3 linked regions of the Homo sapiens genome follow. The protein of the gene in region 1 purifies or fractionates together with the protein of each later gene. This does not show direct contact. Each region holds a gene or a part of one and is shown in the gene's direction. Other genes may lie near its edges. The genes, in order: KCNIP2, S100A7 and ANKRD13A.

Region 1 (7,104 bases):
CAGGGGCCCACCACGGTGCCTGTGCATCCTCTCCACACCTCCATCTGTGCAGTGTAGCTTATGGGGTGTGTGGGCATAGTGTGTGAGAGACACAGGGTGTGACTTTGTGTTCCTGTATGTGAGAGAGTACAAAGTGTGTAACTGTGAGCCTGTGTATGGGACAGGGATATGACTGTATGTGTGAGAGTGACAGGGCATGTGGCTTTGTGAGAAGGTGGATGTGGCCAGGCCTGAGTGGCACAGTATGTGGCTGAGCCTCTGGGTATCAGGTTGTGCATGTGGCTGTTTCCAGAATTTCCTGAGGATATACCAGCTCCATACCCAAGGCTTGGGAGGAGGTGGGTTCTGGAGGGAAGAGTGTGAACATTGTGAAGGAGACATTTATAGCCCAGCTATGATTGGGGATGAGGAGTGGATCAGATCAGGGACCCTGCTTCCCAAGTCCCCTTGCCTCTCCAAGCTCCTATCAGGATCCAAGTGCAGAGTGATCTCCAGGGCCTAGACATTGGGAGTGGAAAATCAACTCCCCTCCCCAGCCCACCCCAAAGTCAGTAGGGAGAGTAATATTGGGGTGGAGTGGGGAGCACTTCTGCCTCCCCCTTGGGAGTTTTGACCTCTCCCTCCTCTTCACGGCTAGAACTGTGTAACTCCGTAGCATGGCTGTTCCCCAGTACCACCAGGGACAGGAAGACAGACTAGAACCATGATGGAGGACTGCAGGGTAGATACCTGGAAGAACTGGAAAAATATGAAGGAAACTGGGAACAAGAGGAAGGTGCATGAATTGCCTGCTCTAGGGTTCAGTAAGAGCAGAAAACTCCTAGCTCACCCTCCATCCTCTGCTGCATTTATTGGGGTGGAGTGGGGAACAGGGAGTTGGACCTAGATAAACTGGGACAGCTGGGCTGAGCTTGTTCTCATTCAATCTGGAAAAGGTGAAGTTGATTGAGCTCTAACTTGCCATTCCTTTTAGATGGGAAAGGGGGAAGAGAGGGCATCTGGAAATCCCAGGAGTCTTGGGCTGAAGGCAGCCATTCTGTTCTCACCTTTAGAGGAGACAGAGGCTTAGAAGCAGGTAGGGGGCTGGGGTGGGGGGCAGGAGAGCCACCCCCGAGTCGGGCAACTACACCATTGGAGGCCCCAGGCGCAATCCAGCTTTGGGAAACTAGAGTCCAGGCTAATGGAGCCCTGGGCCAGAGGCCAGGAATGCCATCGATCCCCCTGCCTGGCCCACTGCCTCCCTCCCACCTCTCCATGGCTCCTGGGGTGGGAGGGAGGTAAGGATGTGTTGAAGGAGAGGAGGTGGTTACTCACCCAGTCACCTCCTGAGAACAGGGCCTGATCTGGAGGGTGAAGCCTGGATTGGGAGGGTGGGGTATATGGAGGGGGAGTAACCTTTAACTAAAGGAAGTTGGACCCCTCCAGGAATGGACTGAGGCCAACTTTAGTCACTGTGTCAGATCCAGTGGGATCTGATCCAGGAATCTGGATGCAGTGCAGCTGGGAGACACAGACACACACACACACACACACACACACACACACACACACACACACAGTAACACTGAGGGTCCTCTGGGGGTGCAATTAGAGCTGTAGAGCATGTGCAGAAATAAGGGAGAAGAGGGGAAGGGGAGCCATGATCAGTGGGCCATGGATAGCCCCACAATACACCAGAATACTCGCCTCCAAGATCTCTTATTGCCACAAAGTTTACTATTATTTCACCCTCAAAGAGCAAGCCATACTGGAAGAGACTGTGAAGGGGCCACAGTTTAGGGTAGATGAGTTAGCTGATGAGGAACCCTGCCCTTTGGCAGAAAGATTCTGGGCACCTTGGAATGAGGAGGGGTTACAGGAAAGAAAAGTGGGTGTACCCAGGAAAAATGAAGCCTCTGTGGGTGAGGTATTGAGGTACAGCCTTAGATATCTGGGTGCCATGGGGACCCAGGTCACAGTATGATATGGATATGTGTCATGACAACCTTGATATGTCTCATAATGTTATAAGGTCACAATGTCATAGTGTTCTTTGTAGACTCACATGTCATGATGTCCCAGAGGCATTGTGTGTTCTTGTGTGGTTTGATCATGCTGTGTGTGAGATGGCCTATATGGGTCTCCATGTGTATGCATCCTGTTTTACTTAGGTCACATTTGTATATGTTTGTGTTAAGGAGTTAGCAGGTCATTGTGTGTGTGTGTGTGAGCATGCATATTACGCCATCAGGTGTGAGTTACTGGATATCAAGCTGTCACTGGCACCCATCACTGTGATGTATTGTTCTACATGTCACTATACACGCCTGTCACTGTAGGTGTGTGTATGAGAGAGGTGTTCTTACCCAGGCAATCCTTGGGTTGGACATCATCCTGAGAGGTCCAGCCATGGCACTTGAGCCAAGGGTACTAGGTCAGCAAAGACACTGAGGCCACTGCCACCTCATCCTTGCCGCCTCGCTGTCACCGGCCACGTCCCATTAAACCAAGTGCCTGAGCCTCACCTCTATGGACTCACTGGGCTCCCCTAACCCGATTCCAACCACCCTTGCCATTCCTTTCCTCCCCTTAATTCCTCCCCCAGCCCGGTCCCCAGATGGGGTTGATTTGTGACTGGCGGGGAGGGGACAGGGAACAGAGGGACAATGGGAGTTAATGTGCCTTCCTGGGGTCTTCTCTCTTCCCAGGCCACCCTCCAGGGCCCACTAAAAAAGCGCTGAAGCAGCGATTCCTCAAGCTGCTGCCGTGCTGCGGGCCCCAAGCCCTGCCCTCAGTCAGTGAAAGCAAGTGCCTCTCATGTGCTTCCGGGGGCGGGGCTCGATGTGTGCGTGCGTGTCTGTGCATGAGTGTGTGCGCGTGTGCCCCAGGCCTGCGAGTGTGCGCATGCTCCAGGCCTGCATGTGTGGGGGGGCGTGCCCCAGGCCTGCGTGTGTGGGGGTGGGGCCTGCCCCAGGCCTGTGCGTGTGTATGTGTGTGCATGTGCGCGCGAGCGTGCCCCAGGCCGGCGTGTGTGTGTGGGGGGGCGTGCCCTACCCCTGCATGTGTGTGGAGGGCGTGCCCCAGGCCCGCGCGCGTGTGTGTGTGTATGGGGAGGCGTGCCGCACGCCTGCGTGTGGGGGAGGGGCGTGCCCCAGGCCTGCGTGCGTGTGTGTGTGTGTGTGTGTGTGTGTGTGGGCGTGACCAGCGTGGCGAGGGCGGGTGCTGGCAAGGCTGGAGCATAAGGGGGCGTGGCTACTGTGTGCGTGTGCGGCTGAAGCCAGCGTGTGTGGGCGTGGTCAGTTGGGAGCGGGTGTGTGTCACCGCTCCCGCAAAACTGTGGGACCCGAGAGTGTGGGTGTGACCATTGTGACCAGGCTGAGGCCTGAGCCTGTGTAGCTGTGGCGGCCTGTGTAGACCAGGCGGCCGTGAGGGTCTGTATGTGGCTTAGCTGGGTTAGTGTCTTCAACTCCGTGCGGCCGCCCCCTTCCCCACCGTGTTTTGGACCCCTGATGTGTGTTGCCTATGCCCCGACAGGATGGTGACAGGTGTAGAGGATGGCGCCTGCCCTCCTCCAGACGCCAGGGTATTTGGGTTTTCTGTGCCAGCCTGGTCCCCTGCTGAGTGATCTCCAGTTGAGTGACCTCGCTTTGTCTCTAGGTCTCCATTTCCTCAGTTGGGCCTTGCCCACCTCATAGGATCATACTGCATTTTGCAAACCATAAAGGCCCGCTTTGTAGTTATTTGAGCATGCTGTTGTGTTGGACTTAGATGGGTCCCACACGGGGGTGGATTCGGAAAAGGACAGGCGTGAGTCCCGCAAGCTTGTGTGCATGGGGTCCGTTTCGTGTGTGTCTGTGCTGGTTGGGTGTGCCTTTGCACGGGCTGGGTTGTGAGGTTTGCTCTGAGTGTGAGGGGCCAGGTGTGTGTCTGCAGTTGGCCGGGTCTTCCGCTTTCTCGGTGACAGTTCGCTCCCTTCAGCATTAGCCGCCCCAGCCTCCCTCCGCCCCCACAGACCCCGCCTGCTGGACCCAGGTGACTTACGCTCCTGGTGGGGGCGGGGCGGGGCAGGGCGGCTTTGCCATCTTGGGGTGGGGGGCACTTGCCTGGGGGCTGGACGTTGGGGGCGGGGCAGGATTGAGATGGGGCCGGGGGTGGGGTCTGGATGGAGGTTGGCTGAGCTGGGCGGGGCATGGCTCAGGCATGGCTGGGATAGATGGGGCTGGGCGGGGCGAGGGGAGGGGCTGGGTGGGACGAGGGGAGGGTTTGGGCGGGGCAAGGCTGGGGCTGGGCGGATCTGAGTTGGTCCCCGAAGGCCCGGAGCTCTGACCCTCAGACGCCCCCTCTTGAACTGGCTTTTCCCACTCCTCCCTTTCTAAAACGAAGATGCGGCTGGGGGCCTTCCCCTCCAACGAGGGATCGAGGGCCGCGGGGCGAGCACTGAGTCGGATCCCTGGCTCTGGGGCCAGGCCAGGCCTTGGCCCGCTGATAGACCTCGAAGATGGCCATCATCTTTTCTCCTTACCTCAGTGTCCTTGGCTCGGGGCCCAGGGAACTGGCAGCCTGGTCTCCGGCATCGGATGGGACCGGGGGGCGGGGAGGGGGTGAATGGGGCAGTGATTTGAAGAGGGGTCGCGGAGGCTGGGCCTGAGGCGCGGCTGTCCTCACCGCTCCCGCAGACAGCGTGGACGATGAATTTGAATTGTCCACCGTGTGTCACCGGCCTGAGGGTCTGGAGCAGCTGCAGGAGCAAACCAAATTCACGCGCAAGGAGTTGCAGGTCCTGTACCGGGGCTTCAAGAACGTGAGTGCAAGGCGAGGCCAAACTCAGCGAGGGTGGGACAGGAGGACCCAAGCCGGTCCACAGCTTCCCAGAAAGCATGGCTTGGATGCTTGAGGTGTGGGCGGAAGGGAGGCAAGGCCCTGAGACTGAACTTCTAGCTGGAGGTTCTGGGGCGGGGCCAGAACGGAAGTGGCGCCTGTAGACTGTCAGTTTCGTTCCATGTTTTTTATTTGTGCACTGGGAAAGAAGTCTTCCCTCCCATCACATGAGCCACGTGGTGAGTCCTCTGGAGGCTTGAAGATTATCCCCCTCCCTGGGAGTCTTGGGCCATGGAGGGTGGGGGCGGTGAACGGAAGGGGATTTTGTCTCTGCCCTCAGCCTGGTGCCCTCTCCTTCCAGGAATGTCCCAGCGGAATTGTCAATGAGGAGAACTTCAAGCAGATTTACTCCCAGTTCTTTCCTCAAGGAGGTGAGGGGACAAGGCCCAAGGGGAAGCAGTTGTCCTTCTCTAGGCTGAGGGAGGGAGGGATTCTGGAGGAGCTGGGAATGCCAAGGTGATGGGGGGTATGGGGAGCTCCTTAGAGGGAGGAAGTCCTCTCCTGTGTGGAAGCCAACTTCTCCACACTCACCCTGCAGACTCCAGCACCTATGCCACTTTTCTCTTCAATGCCTTTGACACCAACCATGATGGCTCGGTCAGTTTTGAGGTGAGCTGGGCGAGGTGGGCCAGGGAAGCCTGTTTCCTGGAGTTCAGGGCCAGGATCTCCAGGCCAAACCCAGAGAAGGAGTTGGGTGAAGAGTACCCGAGGACACAGCTCCCTCCTGCCTCCTTCCCAGGACTTTGTGGCTGGTTTGTCCGTGATTCTTCGGGGAACTGTAGATGACAGGCTTAATTGGGCCTTCAACCTGTATGACCTTAACAAGGACGGCTGCATCACCAAGGAGGTGCAGGGCAACTGAAGGGCTGGGGGTCTGTGGCGGTGATGGGGGTGGCGTGCAGAGGGTGATGGGAGGGAAATATGACCCACATATGCCCACAAGCAAGGGATCAAGGGAGGCTGGAGGCTCTGAGGAAGGATCCTCTTCTCTCTTGGCCTAACAGGAAATGCTTGACATCATGAAGTCCATCTATGACATGATGGGCAAGTACACGTACCCTGCACTCCGGGAGGAGGCCCCAAGGGAACACGTGGAGAGCTTCTTCCAGGTACTTGGGAGTGGGTAGGCTGGAGGGCCCTGGAGTGAAGGGAAGAAGGCCAAGAACCAGCAGGGAACTCACCTGACTTCTGTCTGCCTCTCTCTTGCCATCCCTCCTGTTCTCCCTGCCTGACCACCTTCTTGCAGAAGATGGACAGAAACAAGGATGGTGTGGTGACCATTGAGGAATTCATTGAGTCTTGTCAAAAGGTACAGCTCCCTGCCCTCTACATTACCCTGACCTGGACTCAGGCCTGATTTAGTAATGCAGGGAAAAGCTTCTTTGGGAAGAATACCACCTTCCCACCTCACCCCCATATTTCAATCCTATTCCTTTGTGGGAGGCTTACCCCTTCCCTACCTCAGGTCTCTCTGGGCATCTCCTTCCTCTGTGCTTTTGAATGTCCCCGTCTGTGACTCAGTGTCCCTCTCACTGTCTCTGATAAGCTCCTTCTCTTTCTCTCTCTTCAATCTGCCTCGCTCACATCATGGCCACAGGATGAGAACATCATGAGGTCCATGCAGCTCTTTGACAATGTCATCTAGCCCCCAGGAGAGGGGGTCAGTGTTTCCTGGGGGGACCATGCTCTAACCCTAGTCCAGGCGGACCTCACCCTTCTCTTCCCAGGTCTATCCTCATCCTACGCCTCCCTGGGGGCTGGAGGGATCCAAGAGCTTGGGGATTCAGTAGTCCAGATCTCTGGAGCTGAAGGGGCCAGAGAGTGGGCAGAGTGCATCTCGGGGGGTGTTCCCAACTCCCACCAGCTCTCACCCCCTTCCTGCCTGACACCCAGTGTTGAGAGTGCCCCTCCTGTAGGAATTGAGCGGTTCCCCACCTCCTACCCCTACTCTAGAAACACACTAGACAGATGTCTCCTGCTATGGTGCTTCCCCCATCCCTGACCTCATAAACATTTCCCCTAAGACTCCCCTCTCAGAGAGAATGCTCCATTCTTGGCACTGGCTGGCTTCTCAGACCAGCCATTGAGAGCCCTGTGGGAGGGGGACAAGAATGTATAGGGAGAAATCTTGGGCCTGAGTCAATGGATAGGTCCTAGGAGGTGGCTGGGGTTGAGAATAGAAGGGCCTGGACAGATTATGATTGCTCAGGCATACCAGGTTATAGCTCCAAGTTCCACAGGTCTGCT
Region 2 (7,573 bases), on another chromosome or scaffold:
CCCCACCTCCTCAGGTCTTGTGCTGGATGTAAAACCTGTGTTGCCATAGAGCCACCGACTCTCTCTGTGTCTTTCTTTAACCCTTGCCTTCCCTTCAAAACCTAACAGTGGGACCACAGGCTCTGGGCTGCAGCTGGGTGTTCTCATCCTCCAGTGTGGATGGCTCACAGCAGAACTGAGTCCTAATAACCTCTTGTGAATGCTGCAGAACTCTCTCTCTGTCTCTCTGTCCCGCTCCCCCAACTGCTGCACGAGTCCAGAGATGCAGCTGGCCAACACCACCCAGAAGGACCCCAAACAGAACAGCTGGCTGTCTCGGAACATTCCCGTGGCTCCCTCTGCCCTGTCCCTCTCACCGTGGCTCCTGGAAGTGCTCTATGGCCTATTGAAAGGACGCCCCTACAAAGCTTCCCCTGGTTCCCCCACCTGAAAAGTGATTTCTCCTCTTCCAAATTCTCACACACTTTATCTGAACCTTTCTGAAGACACCTGCCTCACTTGCTAGTTTGGCCAATGTTTATGGAGTTCTCTGCACTGGAGGCTGGGGGCACAATATAAGACATGGCTGGGTGGCAGCAAACATAGCATATGTGTGGCCAGGGCTGTCACTGAGACACGCAGGGACATGGGGATGATGTCTCTGCCTGGAGAAGGCTTCACAGAGAAAGTGCCACTGAACTGCCTGGGGACCTGGGGGCTTCCGGGCGCTGTCCGACTCCACTCTCTCACCACCCAGTGGCTCATTGGAGTTCTCTCCTGGGGCCGGAGCATTGCTCAAAGCACGGTCCACTTTCAATCCATCTCCCTGCCACCCTGACACCTGCACACTCAGAACAGAGTCAGCACTCACAGCATAAATGAATGGATAAAATACAGCAAAAAGAACAAATTGCTTTCTGTTCTCTTCCCCCAGCAACTTGAGATCTTCTAGAGACCCAGGAGTATGTTGCTTCTACCTCAGACTGGGGAGAGGGGAGCTCCCCAAAACGATGGAGGAGATGAAGATATCAACCAGCCAAATTCCTGTTCACGACCAGCCTGTTGTGAGCTCTCCTGGGGGATCAGCAGTGGCTGAGAGGTTGGATGTGTGATGGAGTAGGGTGGGTTTATGGAGAGTGTTTGTTCCAGACATGACACAGGGGAAGGGCTCACAGGGTTCAACCTGATGAGCAGGTGCAAAAGATAAGGCCCCTATTAAGGCTAATTTGCTGAGATTTTCATTTTAGCAAAAACAAATGATCAGTTTTTTGGATGTCTCAAATATGTTTGAAATTTATGTGTATTCTCTATGGTTGGGCATGAATTTATGAATGTATGTGTGTATAAATAAATTTAAGTGTGTCCTTCAAATAGTTTATATCAGGAATCAGCAAATTATGGTCTTTAAGCCAAATCCAGCTGGCCACCTGTTTCTGGAGGTTAGTGTTTATTGGACACAGCCATCATCATTCACGGGGACTTGTGTCTGGGGCTGCTTCTGGGCTGTGGCAGCATCTGCCCGCCCTGCTCTGTGCCATTACTGGTGTTTTGTTATCTGATGGCTTTGTGAAGTTCCTGGGCAGACTCTGCCAAAACCTGCCAAGTGATATAAGTTTGTCAGTTTCCATTAATTTCTTTCAGTGTTTGCTTTATATAATTCAAAATTGTGTTCTTATGTGTATAAGGATAGGACTATTATTGCTGGGCCTGGTGGCTCACACCTGTAATCCCAGCACTTTGGGAGGCCAAGGAGGGTGGATTACCTGAGGTCAGGACTTCGAGACCATCCTGGCCAACATGATGAAACCCCATCTTTACTAAAAATACAAAAATTAGCTGGATGTGGTGGCGTGCACCTGTAATCCCAGCTACTCTGGAGGCTGAGGCAGGACAATCGTTTGAACCCAAGAGGAGGAGGTTGCAGTGAGCCAAGATGACACCACTACACTCTAACCTGGGTAACAAGAGCGAAATTCTGTCTCAAAAAAAAGAAAAAGAAAAAAAAAGAATAAGACTACCGCATCTTGGTGACTTGCACACTAATCAATAAGAAATATTCTTCTTTTTCATTTAATCCCTTTTCTTAGAATTCTTTGTTGTCTTGTATTAATATTGTTGTCCCTGATTCCTTTTGTATTACTTTTCCTCTGTTCCTTTTTTCTAAACAGTGATGATACATAACTCAAAATGAATCATAGACCTACATGCAAACACAATGTTACAAAACTCCTAGATGGTAGCATAAGAGGAAATTTGATCATCTTGGTTTTGGTGATGACTTTTAGATGGCAACACCAAGGCACAATCCATGAAAGAAAGAATTCATAAGCTGGACTTCTTTAAAATTTAACATTTCTCTTTGTGAAAGATATTGTCAAGAGAATGAAAAGATAAGCCACAGACTGGGAGAAAATGTTTACAAAAGACATATCAGACTTTGTATGTTATCCAAAACATACAAAGAACTCTTAAAACTCAACGATAAGAACACAAACCAAACAATTAGAAAATGGGCCAAAGACCTTAACAGATATCTCATCAAAGAAGATACAGAAGGTGACAAATAAGCATATCAGAAGATGCTCCACATCATATGTCCTCAAGGAAATGCAAATTAAAACAACAATGAGATACCAGTACACACTTATGAGAATGCCCAAAATCTGGAACACTGGACAACAGCAAATGCTGAAGAAGGATGTGGAGCAACAGGAACTCTCATTCATTGATGGCAGGAACACAAAATAGTACAGCCACTTTGGAAGACAGTTTAGTGCTTTCTTAAAAAACTAAACATACTCTTACCATAGGATCCAGAAATCACACTCCTTGGGATTTACCCAAAAGAAGTGAAAACTTATGTCCACACAAAAACCTGCATACACATATATATGAATATATGGCACAATGGTGAAGTCTGGGCTTTTAATGAAGCCATCCTAAATAGCATGCATTGTACCCACTAAGAAATGTCTCATCCTTCACCCACCGCCTCACCTGCTGCCCTTCACAGTCTCCAGTGTCTATGATTCTACTCTCTACCTCCATCTGTATGCATGATGTAGCTCCCACTTACACATGAGGTTGCACAGTATTTGACTTTCTGAGTAATTTCACTTAAGATAATAGCCTCCAGTTCCATCCATGTTGCCGCAAAAAGCGTGATTTCATTCTTTTTTTATAGCTGAGTAGCATTCCACTGTGTGTGTGTGTATGTATCTTTTGCTGTTAAAAGTAATATTGCCATCACATGGGGAACTGGGAGAGGGAGAAACAGGTCCCCCTGGTTACATAGGTACTGACGAGAAGGAAGTTGAAGAAAGATGATGGGTGGAGAAAATAGGTCCCACCTAGGGAGACATCACATCAGCTCTGTGGAGCCCCAGAGTGCTTAAAGGGCTGGCACTAAATGAACCTGGAACTCTCTTGCACCCTAAAAGGAACATTGCAAGGGGGTAGCAGAAAAAGTCCATTTCAGTGATTCATCATCTCCCTTTCCTCACCATGCCCCAGGGATTCCCATGCCTTCCCAACCCTCTTGCCCCTACCTGGGTCAGCCTTTCCACAGCAGGTTAGGGCACATTATAGCCAAGGGCACAACTCCCAACTCCTACACAGGCTGTTTTGCATAGGAGGAGGAAAAACACTGAAGACTTTCTGGGAAGTTAGTGCCATGGGGCAGGAAAGAACTTTTCCCACTCCCTGCCTCCAGGCTCATTCCATGGGGGGGTCACTCCACCACTCAACCTAGATAGTGAGGCCCCTGACCCCAGTCCCCCCACCTAATTCCAGGGCTTCTGTGAGGGGCTGACCAATGGTTAGCAATGAAGTAACCCTGCTTCCCTCCCTGGACTTTGAGTTCCCATAGGGCAGACCCTGATGTGACCCAAGACCTATAGCACAGGGGATAAGAGTAAGGATTTGATTCAGGCTTTTCTGAGTCCATATAATGATTTGTTGTGTTTACTAGCTGAGTAAACTTGGGAACATCTCAACTTCTCCTTTCCTAAAATAGAGATTGAAGCACCTCTTAGGACTATGAGGGTTGAGGAGGATGCAGGAGCAGCAGGTATCTTGATATCTAGACATTAAAATGCTCAGTCAGCGGTGGGGGTCATAGAACAGGCTGTCATAACAAATGTGTGGAAGGATAAGGGGAGGGAACAAACAAGACCATGCTGCCTTCAGGAGTCTGAAACTCCATCCTCTTTGGGTCCAGAGGCCCAGTGCTCTTTTCTCCCATTTTCTGACCTGCTACTACACATGTACCGCTGCCTTACCCTCAAATCAAGGTTGAGCCAGAGAAGACTCCAGGTGAGGTCTCTGGGGTGGGGTGGGACCTGGTGACCTGGGACACTGGCCAGAAATCCTGAGCACAGCCTCCTGGGTGTGTCCCACCCACCTGATGTGGGGCAAGCCTCCAAGAAACAGATGACAGAGGTGGCCCCAGGCCTCCCAGCCCCTGGGAAGAGCCAGGCTGAGCCTTATAAAGGACTGCTCTTTGTCCAAACACACACATCTCACTCATCCTTCTACTCGTGACGCTTCCCAGCTCTGGTAAGTCTCACCTGCCTCTTTGCGTTTTCTAGAAGTGCCCAGTGCCTGGCCTGCCATGCTGCCTGTAGGAAGGGAAAGGGCTGTGGACAAAGACTCAGAAGCCTGGGTCTAGGCCAGCTCTGCCATTAGCTGGGCTGTGTGACCTTCACTTGACCCCAAAAGCCCACGTCTGTATAACCAGGTGGCTGAACCAGACCTGTCCATTGCTCCTTTGGGATCTCCTGAGGCAACTCCTGTGGAAATGTCCCCAGTGGGACCTGAGCACAGGACCCTCCCTGTCCTCTTCCTCCCTGGATTCATCCTCCTGTTGGGGTCCCGGTTGCTAAATCCCCTCCCCAGCTCCAGCTCCACAGAGGGTGGAGGGCTAGGGGTCCCCTGTGAATGCTTTGGAGGCTCTCCAAACCCCCAGGCCTGGGACCCCGACACAGCATAGCCCTGGCCAGATGGCTTGCCCCTACCTGGGTAAGGTATTGAGAAACCAACGCTCCGTCACTCCCTACCACAACCTGCAAATTGTCAGTCACCCTCTGGGCACAGGGCTTGCCCTCTGGCCTTGGCCTCAGATTCAAAAAAGCTCTGGGTGGCTCCTCTTAGTCAGTTGCCGGCATGGAGCTTTCTCCTGCATTGAGAGGTGTTGGGGGTTTATTGTCAGACACCCATATGCATTAGCCAAGGTCCTTTCCTGGTTCTTTGGAAAGTGTGGGAAGTGAGAACTGCACTGTCCTATTTTTCAGGCTTGGGGTGCAGGCCAGCCCAGACTGACTACTGGCTGAAAGATCTGCTTTGGGAAGTCAGACATTTTTATTTAAACAGTCAAGGCTTGGTGATTCAGAGGGTGCAGATAATTCCCAAGAGCAGACATGAAGTGACTCCCACCTCACTCCCACCCCGTCCAGCAGCTTAAGAACCAGAGAGTTATTTCTGTTCCTTGTAACAGAGGCCATTCCTGTTTCTCGTTCCCAAGGGAATACAAGAAGGGCCCCCTGTGCTCGGGACAGGACTGTGTTTCCTGCTAACACTCACGTCCACGCTCACATGTGCACCTGGAGCCTGCACACACCGTGTCATGCAGGGCTTGCACTTGAGTCAAGGTGGGGCCCACGGTGTCTGGTTCCTGAAGCAGCCGAGGAGGGTCAGACACCAGATCACCAAGGCCATTGTCCTGCCCCCATGACTGTCACCCCGACTGTGAAGCTGGAGGAGATGGATTTGGTGCTCTTTTAAGAGTGGGGTCTGCCATGTGCTGGCTGAGGCTGGGGTGTCCCAGCTTAGTTCTTCCATGTGTTGCTGGCGCCCGACTCTCCCTGCTTCTCCCTCTCTGAAGCACTGTCCACAGCTGGACTTCCGCCATCCACCTGCATCTCCTCTTGGCCCTGGCCAGGATGGGCCAGGTCTCAGACTTGGTCCTACCCTCTCATTTTTGAGCAACTTATCCCATCACATTAAAAAAAAATTGAGTTCGTTCTGCTACACCTTATCCGTGTTTTTACTCTGTCCTCAGCCCTCCTTCCAGCACTCCCAAATAGAGACCCTAACTTAAATGAAGGGAAAAAAATGATTGTCTTTATTTCCTGAAGGCTTTTTGAAAGCAAAGATGAGCAACACTCAAGCTGAGAGGTCCATAATAGGCATGATCGACATGTTTCACAAATACACCAGACGTGATGACAAGATTGAGAAGCCAAGCCTGCTGACGATGATGAAGGAGAACTTCCCCAACTTCCTTAGTGCCTGTGTGAGTCGGTGTCTAGCTTCTCAATGTTGGAGGATACATTTTGCTATGTGGCCTTGGACAGATCACCCTCACCCTCTGATTAAAAAATTTCCCATTTGCAAATAGGGCTTTATTACTTGGATCATATGTGAATCTAAGGATGGTAGGCAAAAAAGTATGAAAATGGGAAAGAGTTATACAGATATAAAGGAGGTTATTAGATGGTCAGCAAAGTGTGCAGCTTGAGGGCAGTGCACAGTCCCCTCCCAGCACTCACTGACCCTCTCTCTGTGAGACTGAAACTCACATGCTCAGGTCCTGTTTCCCAAAGGCCCCACATCAACATCCCTGAGATTACTGGGAAAGCACTAGAAGTTCCATTGTTAGTAGAAATCAATAGCCCTCTTTGCAATAAACAAGACTCATTAGCAAATCTGAAAAAAAACTGTGGGCTACTAGGTACCAAAGGGTCTAGATGACCAAGAGTAGGATACCCAGAAGATGAGTTTGGTGGAAAAGGAGAAGAAAGGAGAGGAGGCCAGAGAAAGAAGAGAACAAAAGCATGAGGGCCAATTTTGAGGCCCTGGGGTAGAACTAAGGTAGGCAGTGCCCTTAGAGGCTGGGACGGGAAAGAGTGAGGCTGGGGCAGGGGACTGCTCTCCCCAAGGTCACTTAACAGAGCACCTTGGGACAGGACCTGCCTCCCATCCTGAGGTGTGAGACAAAAAGACTCCCTAGAGAACTCCAGGGATAACACTCACGTCCTCACCCCAACTTCACCCACTCACCCTGTGCTCTCAGCCCCGCCACCATGCCTGTGCAGATCTAGGTACTTGTCTGTATCTCTGCCTCCTCCTCTCCCTCCCAGCCCAAAACTTGTTTGTGATTGAATTTTTCTATTTTGTATGTTTTTCTCTTCACAGGACAAAAAGGGCACAAATTACCTCGCCGATGTCTTTGAGAAAAAGGACAAGAATGAGGATAAGAAGATTGATTTTTCTGAGTTTCTGTCCTTGCTGGGAGACATAGCCACAGACTACCACAAGCAGAGCCATGGAGCAGCGCCCTGTTCCGGGGGCAGCCAGTGACCCAGCCCCACCAATGGGCCTCCAGAGACCCCAGGAACAATAAAATGTCTTCTCCCACCAGACACTTGCCTTATTTTCTTCTTCTCTTTGGTGACCTACGTTGTCAAAACTACCAATTCCAGGTTAACTTTGTTGGAGAATTTCCCCCACCCCCATCCAGTGGGTCACCCAGGAGTAATGTCCCTCCAGCAACGTTCCCCCTATGGCCTCCAGCAGAGCTGAGCTGCCTCTCACA
Region 3 (7,104 bases), on another chromosome or scaffold:
AGGCAGATCGCCTGAGGTCAGGAGTTGGAGACCAGCCTGACCAACACGGTGAAACCCCGTCTCTACTAAAAATACAAAAATAGCTGGATGTGGTGGCACGTGCTTGTAATCCCAGCTACTCAGGAGGTTGAGGCAGGAGAATCGCTTGAATCCAGGAGGCTGAGGTTGCAGTGAGCCAAGATCGTGCCACTGCACTCCAGGCTGGGAGACAGAGCGAGGCTCCGACTCAAAAAACAAAAAAAACCCAAAAAATTCTTATCACCCCAGCAATAAAGTGGCTGTTTCCCTTAATGTTTTGTTTGCTGGTGAGTTTCTGCTGTCAGTTTCCTCATTCCGTCTATCACCTGATTGAGACTTGGAGCATGTATACTGATAGCTGTAAGAATTTTTTTCCAGGTTTTTTGTTCCTGTTCCAGGAACAGCAACACAAGAAAGAATCAAGTTTATCCAGATGAAGAGGATAAGCACGTGTTTCTGTGTGTGTGAGCCAGCCCCAATCCCACTGTCTCACTAATAGCAGGCAGTTGTGTAACTATGCCAACTACCAGATTGTTTCAGGCCTTCATTTGATCAGCAGAGGCATTTAATAAAGTGCCTCTTAACCCATCAGCTCATTAATATTCAGTGGGGCCTTGAAGTTGGTTGCTGAAGTTGAAACTGTTTGTGTTCTGCTTATGTCGTTGGCCGCTTAGCTAAAGAAGTCTGTTAAACTTCTTTGGCCTTCTTACTGATGGTGAGACATGAACACTTAAGGGGACAGATGCAAAGGTGAGTCAGTGTACCTTAGACAGGGTTGGAAAACCTGGGTTGTGTGAGGTGGAGGGTGGCAAATGAGGCCTGACTCTAGAGCCAGGCTCCCTGTTTAGGAAGCCAGCAGGTGAAAAGTATAGCACCTAGGTAAGAGGAGGACATTCCTGGGGTTCTCACTCCAGCCTGGGGCAGGCCAGGTGAGGCCCCGGGCACAGATTCAAATCGCTGAGCCATGGGCTAGGCATCCAAGATGAAGAGCCTAGAGCCTGCTCTCCTCATGTGCCCCCTTGGTCATCGGGGGTTCAAGCTCACCTTAGGAAACTGGCCTCAAGATTCCTGTTTCCACTGACTCAGCGTGGGGGCCACACAGGACCAGGATGGTCTGAGAGTGAAGAGGAGTGAGGGTGGTTGTCTGTGTTGAGAGAGAGGAGGACTAGCCAGCAGCCTCTTGCTGGAGTCCCCCTAAAGGTGACAGTGAGTTTATGAAGCACTTCCTGCATGCCAGGTACCAAGGCACAGGGGAACTGATAATTCACCTGAGGCTAGTGGGCAAGCTGGAAGGGGTGTCCAGTTGTCTGGTTCTGCAGCCTGGCCTCAGAGCTCGGCAGGAGGATGGCAAGATAGTAAAGAGGGCTTTTGATTGAGGAGGCTGAGGTGGGGTCAGTGCTTGAGGACAGGAGTTCAAGACCAGCCTGGCCAATATAGTAAGACTCCGTCTCCTTAAAAAAAAATTTTTTTTGGCTGGGCACGGTGGCTCACGCCTGTACTCCCAGCTCTTTGGGAGGCCAAGGCAGGTGGATCATGAGGTCAGGAGTTCAAGACTAGCCTGGCCAACATAGTGAAACCCCATCTTTGCTAAAAATATGAAAAATTAGCTGGGCATGGTGGCGGGTGCTTGTAATCCCAGCTACTTGGGAGGCTGAGGTGGGAGAATCGCTTGAACCTGGGAGGCGGAGGTTGCAGTGAGCCAAAATCGCACCATTGCACTCTAGGCCCGGCAACAGTATGAGACTCCATCTCAAAAAAAAAATAAATTTTTTTTAAGGCTTTTGAGCAAGAAAAGTGGATGAGCTGAAATGAGCAAATAGGAAGGAAACTCCTAGTTAAAGGAGGATGGGTATTTTTATTTGGGTATAGCTCATGGCTAAAGAAACTTAAAAGGAAAACCTAAATGATCAGTTTCGAAAGTGAATTCCAGCCGGGCGTGGTGGCTCAGGCCTGTAATCCCAGCACTTTGGGAGGCCGAGGTGGGCGGATCACCTGAGGTCGGGAGTTCGAGACCAACCTGACCAACACAGAGAAACCCCGTCTCTACTAAAAATACAAAATTAGCCAGGCGTGGTGGTGCATGCCTGTAATCCCAGCTACCCGGGAGGCTGAGGCAGGAGAATTGCTTGAACCTGGGAGGCAGAGGTTGCAGTGAGCCAAGATCTCGGTGAGCTAAGATTGCACCATTGCACTCCAGCCTGGGCAACAAGAGGGAGACTCTGTCTCAAAAGAAAAAGTGAATTCCAGCTAAATTCTGAAACTCCTTGTTCTCTGAACTCATATTATTAGTTGAAGATTCTAAGCCCCACTAATAACTGTAATGCAATTTGAGCAAATCCCTTTTAGGGAGAAAGTGACAGCTATATGAAACTACATAGTGTGGGCGTATGATAATAACAGGTAACTCTTCTCAGCACTTACTGTGGTGTCAAGCACCGTGCTAAGTTAAGGACTTTCCCCTTGTAAGAACTGTAAGGTAGGTTTTTTTTATTGTTCAGTTTTACAAGCGAGCAAACTGAAGCTCAGGAGGAATTAAGCAACTTGTCAAACAGTACATGAGAGATTCGTTTTATGTATTATGTATAAACATATACAGATTGATTTTTTCAAAAGATTTTTATTGCGATATAGTTCACTTATATAATCTACATTTAAAGGTTATTCAATGGTTTTTAGTATATCTGCTGAGTTATGCAACTATCACTACTGTCAAATTTCAGAAATTTTTTTCTTTTTCTTTCTTTTTTGTTTTTTTGTTGTTTTTGAGACAGGGTCTCACTCTCTTGCCTAGGCTGGCACCATCACAGCTCACTGCACCCTTGACCTTCTCGGCTTAAGCAATCCTCCCACCTCAGCCTCCCAAATAGCTAGGACTGCAAGCAAGCACTACCACGCTTGGCTAATTTTTAAAGATTTTTTTGTAGAGAAAATGTGTCCCTATGTTGCCCAGACTGGGCTCAAGCAGTCCTCCTGCCTTGGCCTGCCAAAGTGCTAAGATTACAGGTGTTAGCCACTGCACCCACCCTGTAATATTTTCCTCACCCGAAAAAGAAACCCCATACCTGTAGTAGTCACTCCTCATTTCTCCCCAACCCCTCCAGCCCAGGCAACCTGCTAACCTACTTCCTGTCTCTAGATTTGCCTATTCTGGACATTTCATATAAATAGAATCATATGTGGCCTTTTGTTTCTTCTTTTACTTAGCATAATGTTTTGGAGGTTCATCTACGTTGTGGCATGTTTCAGGTGCTTAATTCCTTTTTATCACTGAATATATTCCATTGCATGGATGTACTATGTTTTGTTTGTTAGACGAAAATGTTTCTCCGTTTGTCAGTTGATGGACATTTGGGTTGTCGCCACTTTTTGGCTATTATGAGTAACGCTGCTGTGTGTATTTGTGTATATGTTTTTGTGGGTTTCCTTTTTTTTGAGACAGCTTGCTTTGTTGCCCAGGCTGGAGTGCAGTGGCATGATCTCAGCTCTCTGCAACCTCTGCCTCCTGGGTTTAAGCGATTCTCCTGTCTCAGCCTCCCTAGTAGCTGGGATTACAGGTGTGCACCACCACGCCTGGCTAATTTTTGTATTTTTAGTAGAGATGGGGTTTCACCATGTTGGCCAGGCTGGTCTTGAACTCCTGACCTCAAGTGATCAGCCCACCTTGGCCTCCCAAAGTTCTGGGATTACAGGCATGAGCCACTGCACCCAGCCCCATGTATAAGTTTTTGTATGGGTATATGTTTTCATTTATCTTGGGTATATACCTTGGAGAGGAATTGCTGGGTCATGTAGTTACTCTATGTTTTAACTTTTTGCGGAACTGCCAGCAATTTTTCGAAGTGGCTGCACTATTTTACATTTCCACCAGCAGTGTATGAGATTCCAGTTTCTTCACATCCTTGTCAACACTTGGTATTATCTGTTGTTTTGTTTGTACGCATCCTAGTGGGTGTGAAGTGGCATCTCATTGTGGTTTTGATTCGCATTTCTCTTATGATTAATGATGTTGAGCATCTTTTCATGTGCTTATTGGCAATTTGTGTATCTTCCTTGGAGAAATGTCATCTCAAATCCTTTGCCCATTTAAAAATTGAGTTATTTGACTTGTTGAGTTGTAAAGGTTCTTTGCATATTCTGGATAGTAGGCCCTTATCAGTATGTGATTTGCAAATATTTTCTCCCATTCCATGGGTTGTCTTTTTTTTTTTGAGATGGAGTTTCGCTCTTGTTGCCTAGGCTGGAGTGCAATGGTGTGATCTCGGCTTACCACAACCTCCGCCTCCCAGGTTCAAGCAATTTTCCTGCCTCAGCCTCCCGAGTAGCTGGGATTACAGGCATGCGCCACCATGCCTGGCTAATTTTGTATTTTTAGTAGAGATGGAGTTTCTCCATGTTGATCAGGCTGATCTCGAACTCCCTACCTCAGGTGATCCTCCCGCCTTGGCCTCCCAAAGTGCTGGGATTATAGGGATGAGCCAATGAGCTCAGCCAAAATTTTGTTCTTTTGCATGTAGATATGCAGTTGTTCAAGCGGCACTTGTTGAAAGGACAGTTCTTTCCCAATGAATTATTTTGGCACCCTTGTTGAAAATCAATTGACCATAAATGTGTGGGTTTATTTCTGGACTCTAAATTGTATTCCATTGACCTGTATGTCTGTCCTTATGCCAGTACCACGTTGTCTTGATTGCTGTAGCTTTGTGTAGTACGTTTTAAAATTGGCAAGCGTGAAATGTGAGTCCTCAGACCTCTCTCTTCAAGGTGGCTATTCTAGGTTTCTTGCATTTCCACATGAATTCTAAGATCAGCTTGTCAATGTCAGCAAAAAGCCAGCTGAGATTTTGATAGGAGTTGAATTGAATCTATACCTCAGTTTGGAGAGTTTTGTCATTTTAACAATATTGTCTTTTAAACCATGAGCATAAGGATGTTTTTCAATTTATTTAGGTCTTCTTTAATTTTTTGAGGTTTTTTTTGTTTGTTTGTTTTTTGAGATGGAGTTTTTACTATTGTTGCCCAGGCTGGAGTTCAATGGCACAATCTTGGCTCACTGCAACCTCCGTCTCCCAGGTTCAAGCGATTCTCCTGCCTCAGCCTCCCAAGTAGCTGGGATTACAGACATGTGCCACCACGCCCGGCTAATTTTGTATTTTTAGTAGAGGTGGGGTTTCTCCATGTTGGTCAGGCTGGTCTCGAACTCCCGACCTCAGGTGATCCGCCCACCTCAGCCTCCCCAAGTGCTGGGATTACAGGTGTGAGCCACCACACCAGGCCAGTTCTTCTTTAATTTTTTTTAAACAATGTTTTATGGTTTAAGAGTATGTAAGTTTTATATTTATTGTGTCATATTTATTCCTAAATGTTTTATTTTTTGATGCTATTATAGATGGAATTGTTGTCTTAATTTCATTTTTGAGTTGCTCATTACAAGTATGTAGAAATATAATTGATTAGTTATTGATCTTGTGTCCTGAAACCTTGCTGAACTCATTTAATAGTTCTAATAGTTTTTTGGTGGATTCCTTAGGATTTTATACACAAGATCATGTCATCTTCCTTTCCATTCTGGATGCTTTTTATTTATTTTTCTTGCCCAGTTGCCATGACTAGAATCTCTAGTACAATGTTGACTAGATATGGTGAAAGAGGACATCCTCATCTTGTTCCTCATCTTAGAGGGGAAACATCCAGTCTTTCACCATTAACTATGATGTTAGTTGTGGGTTTTTTAGAGATGCTTTTTGAGGAAGTTTCCTTTTATTCCTAGTATGTTGAGAGTTTTGGTTTTTTTCTTTTAATCATGAAGGGATGTTGGAGTTTTGTCAGATGTTTTTGCTGCAGCTGTTGAGATGATCATGTATTTTGTTTTATCCTATGATATGGTGTAATACGTTAATTGACTATCTGAAGTTATACCATTCTTATATTTGTAGGATAAGTCTCAGTTGGTCATAGTGTATAATACCCTTTTTATATGTTGCTGAATTTAGTTTGCCAGTATATCGTGGAGGATTTTTGCATCTATATCATAAGAGATATTAGTGTGTGGTTTTCTTTTCTTGTGACGCATTTGTCATCAGGATAATAGTGGGTTCATAAAATGAATTGGAAAGTTTTCCTTCTTCATCTATTTATTGGAAAAGTTTGTGAAACATTGGTATTAATTCTTTAAATGTTTAATAGCATTCACCAGTGAAGTCCAGGCATGGTGGCTCGTGCCTGTAATCCCAGCACTTTGGGAGGCTGAGGTGGGCAGATCACATGAGGTTAGGAGTTCAAGACCAGCCTGGCCAACATGGCAAAACCCCAATTTTACTAAAAGTACATAAATTAGCCAGGTGTGGTGGTGGGCACCTGTAATCCCAGCTACTCAGGAGGCTGAGGCACAAGAATCACTTGAACCTGGGAGGTGGAGGTTGCAGTGAGCTGAGATTGTGCCACTATACTCCAGCCTGGGCGACAGAGCGAGACTCAGTCTGGAAAAAAAACCCATCTGGGCCTGCATTTTTTTTGGTGGGCAGTTTTAAAATTACTAATTCAATCTCTTGTTATAAACTTATTCAGATTTTTGGTTTCTTTTTGAGTCAGTTTTGCTAGTTTGCATTTCTGTAGGGATTTATCTTGTTCATCTAAGTTGTCTAATTTGTTGGCATACAGTTGTTCATAGTCTTCTTTTATTTTATTTTATTTTTTGAGACGAAGTTTTACTCTTGTTGCCCAGGCTGGAGTGCAATGGCACAATCTCGGCTCACCACAACCTCCGCCTTCCGGGTTCAAGCAATTCTCCTGCCTCAGCCTCCTGAGTAGCTGGGGCTACAGGCATGTGCCACCACGCGCGGCTAATTTTGTATTTTTAGTAGAGACGGGGTTTCTCCATGTTGGTCAGGCTGGTCTCGAACTCCCGACCTCTAGTGATCCACCCGCCTCGGCCTCTCAAAGTGTTGGGATTACAGGCATGAGCCACTGCACCCGGCCCATAGTTTTCTTTTATAATCCTTTTTATTTCTGTAGAGTTGCTAATATTCCATCTTTAATTCCTGATTTTAGTAAGTTAAGTCTTCTCTCTTTTTTCCCTGGTCTATCTAA

The links.
Region 2: the proteins of KCNIP2 (region 1) and S100A7 purify together in Homo sapiens (affinity purification with mass spectrometry; 3 studies listed by BioGRID and IntAct, with this or other methods). This does not show direct contact.
Region 3: the proteins of KCNIP2 (region 1) and ANKRD13A purify together in Homo sapiens (affinity purification with mass spectrometry; 3 studies listed by BioGRID and IntAct, with this or other methods). This does not show direct contact.

The regions. Positions count from the first base shown.
Region 1 is NC_000010.11:101,826,751-101,833,854, reverse strand, and holds part of KCNIP2 (A-type potassium channel modulatory protein KCNIP2), read left to right. Parts: intron 1-2,687; coding exon 2,688-2,783; intron 2,784-3,912; coding exon of another isoform or gene 3,913-3,957; coding exon 3,958-4,011; intron 4,012-4,655; coding exon 4,656-4,780; intron 4,781-4,965; exon of another isoform or gene 4,966-5,137; coding exon of another isoform or gene 5,138-5,158; coding exon 5,159-5,228; exon of another isoform or gene 5,229-5,395; coding exon 5,396-5,466; exon of another isoform or gene 5,467-5,596; coding exon 5,597-5,704; intron 5,705-5,861; coding exon 5,862-5,966; exon of another isoform or gene 5,967-5,995; intron 5,996-6,103; coding exon 6,104-6,166; coding exon of another isoform or gene 6,167-6,214; intron 6,215-6,454; coding exon 6,455-6,502; 3' UTR 6,503-6,584; coding exon of another isoform or gene 6,585-6,647; 3' UTR 6,648-7,104. UniProt on the Homo sapiens protein: Regulatory subunit of Kv4/D (Shal)-type voltage-gated rapidly inactivating A-type potassium channels. Modulates channel density, inactivation kinetics and rate of recovery from inactivation in a calcium-dependent and isoform-specific manner.
Region 2 is NC_000001.11:153,457,571-153,465,143, reverse strand, and holds S100A7 (protein S100-A7), read left to right. Parts: upstream 1-4,492; 5' UTR 4,493-4,536; intron 4,537-6,113; 5' UTR 6,114-6,130; coding exon 6,131-6,271; intron 6,272-7,173; coding exon 7,174-7,338; 3' UTR 7,339-7,400; downstream 7,401-7,573.
Region 3 is NC_000012.12:110,002,388-110,009,491, forward strand, and holds part of ANKRD13A (ankyrin repeat domain-containing protein 13A), read left to right. Parts: intron 1-7,104. UniProt on the Homo sapiens protein: Ubiquitin-binding protein that specifically recognizes and binds 'Lys-63'-linked ubiquitin. Does not bind 'Lys-48'-linked ubiquitin.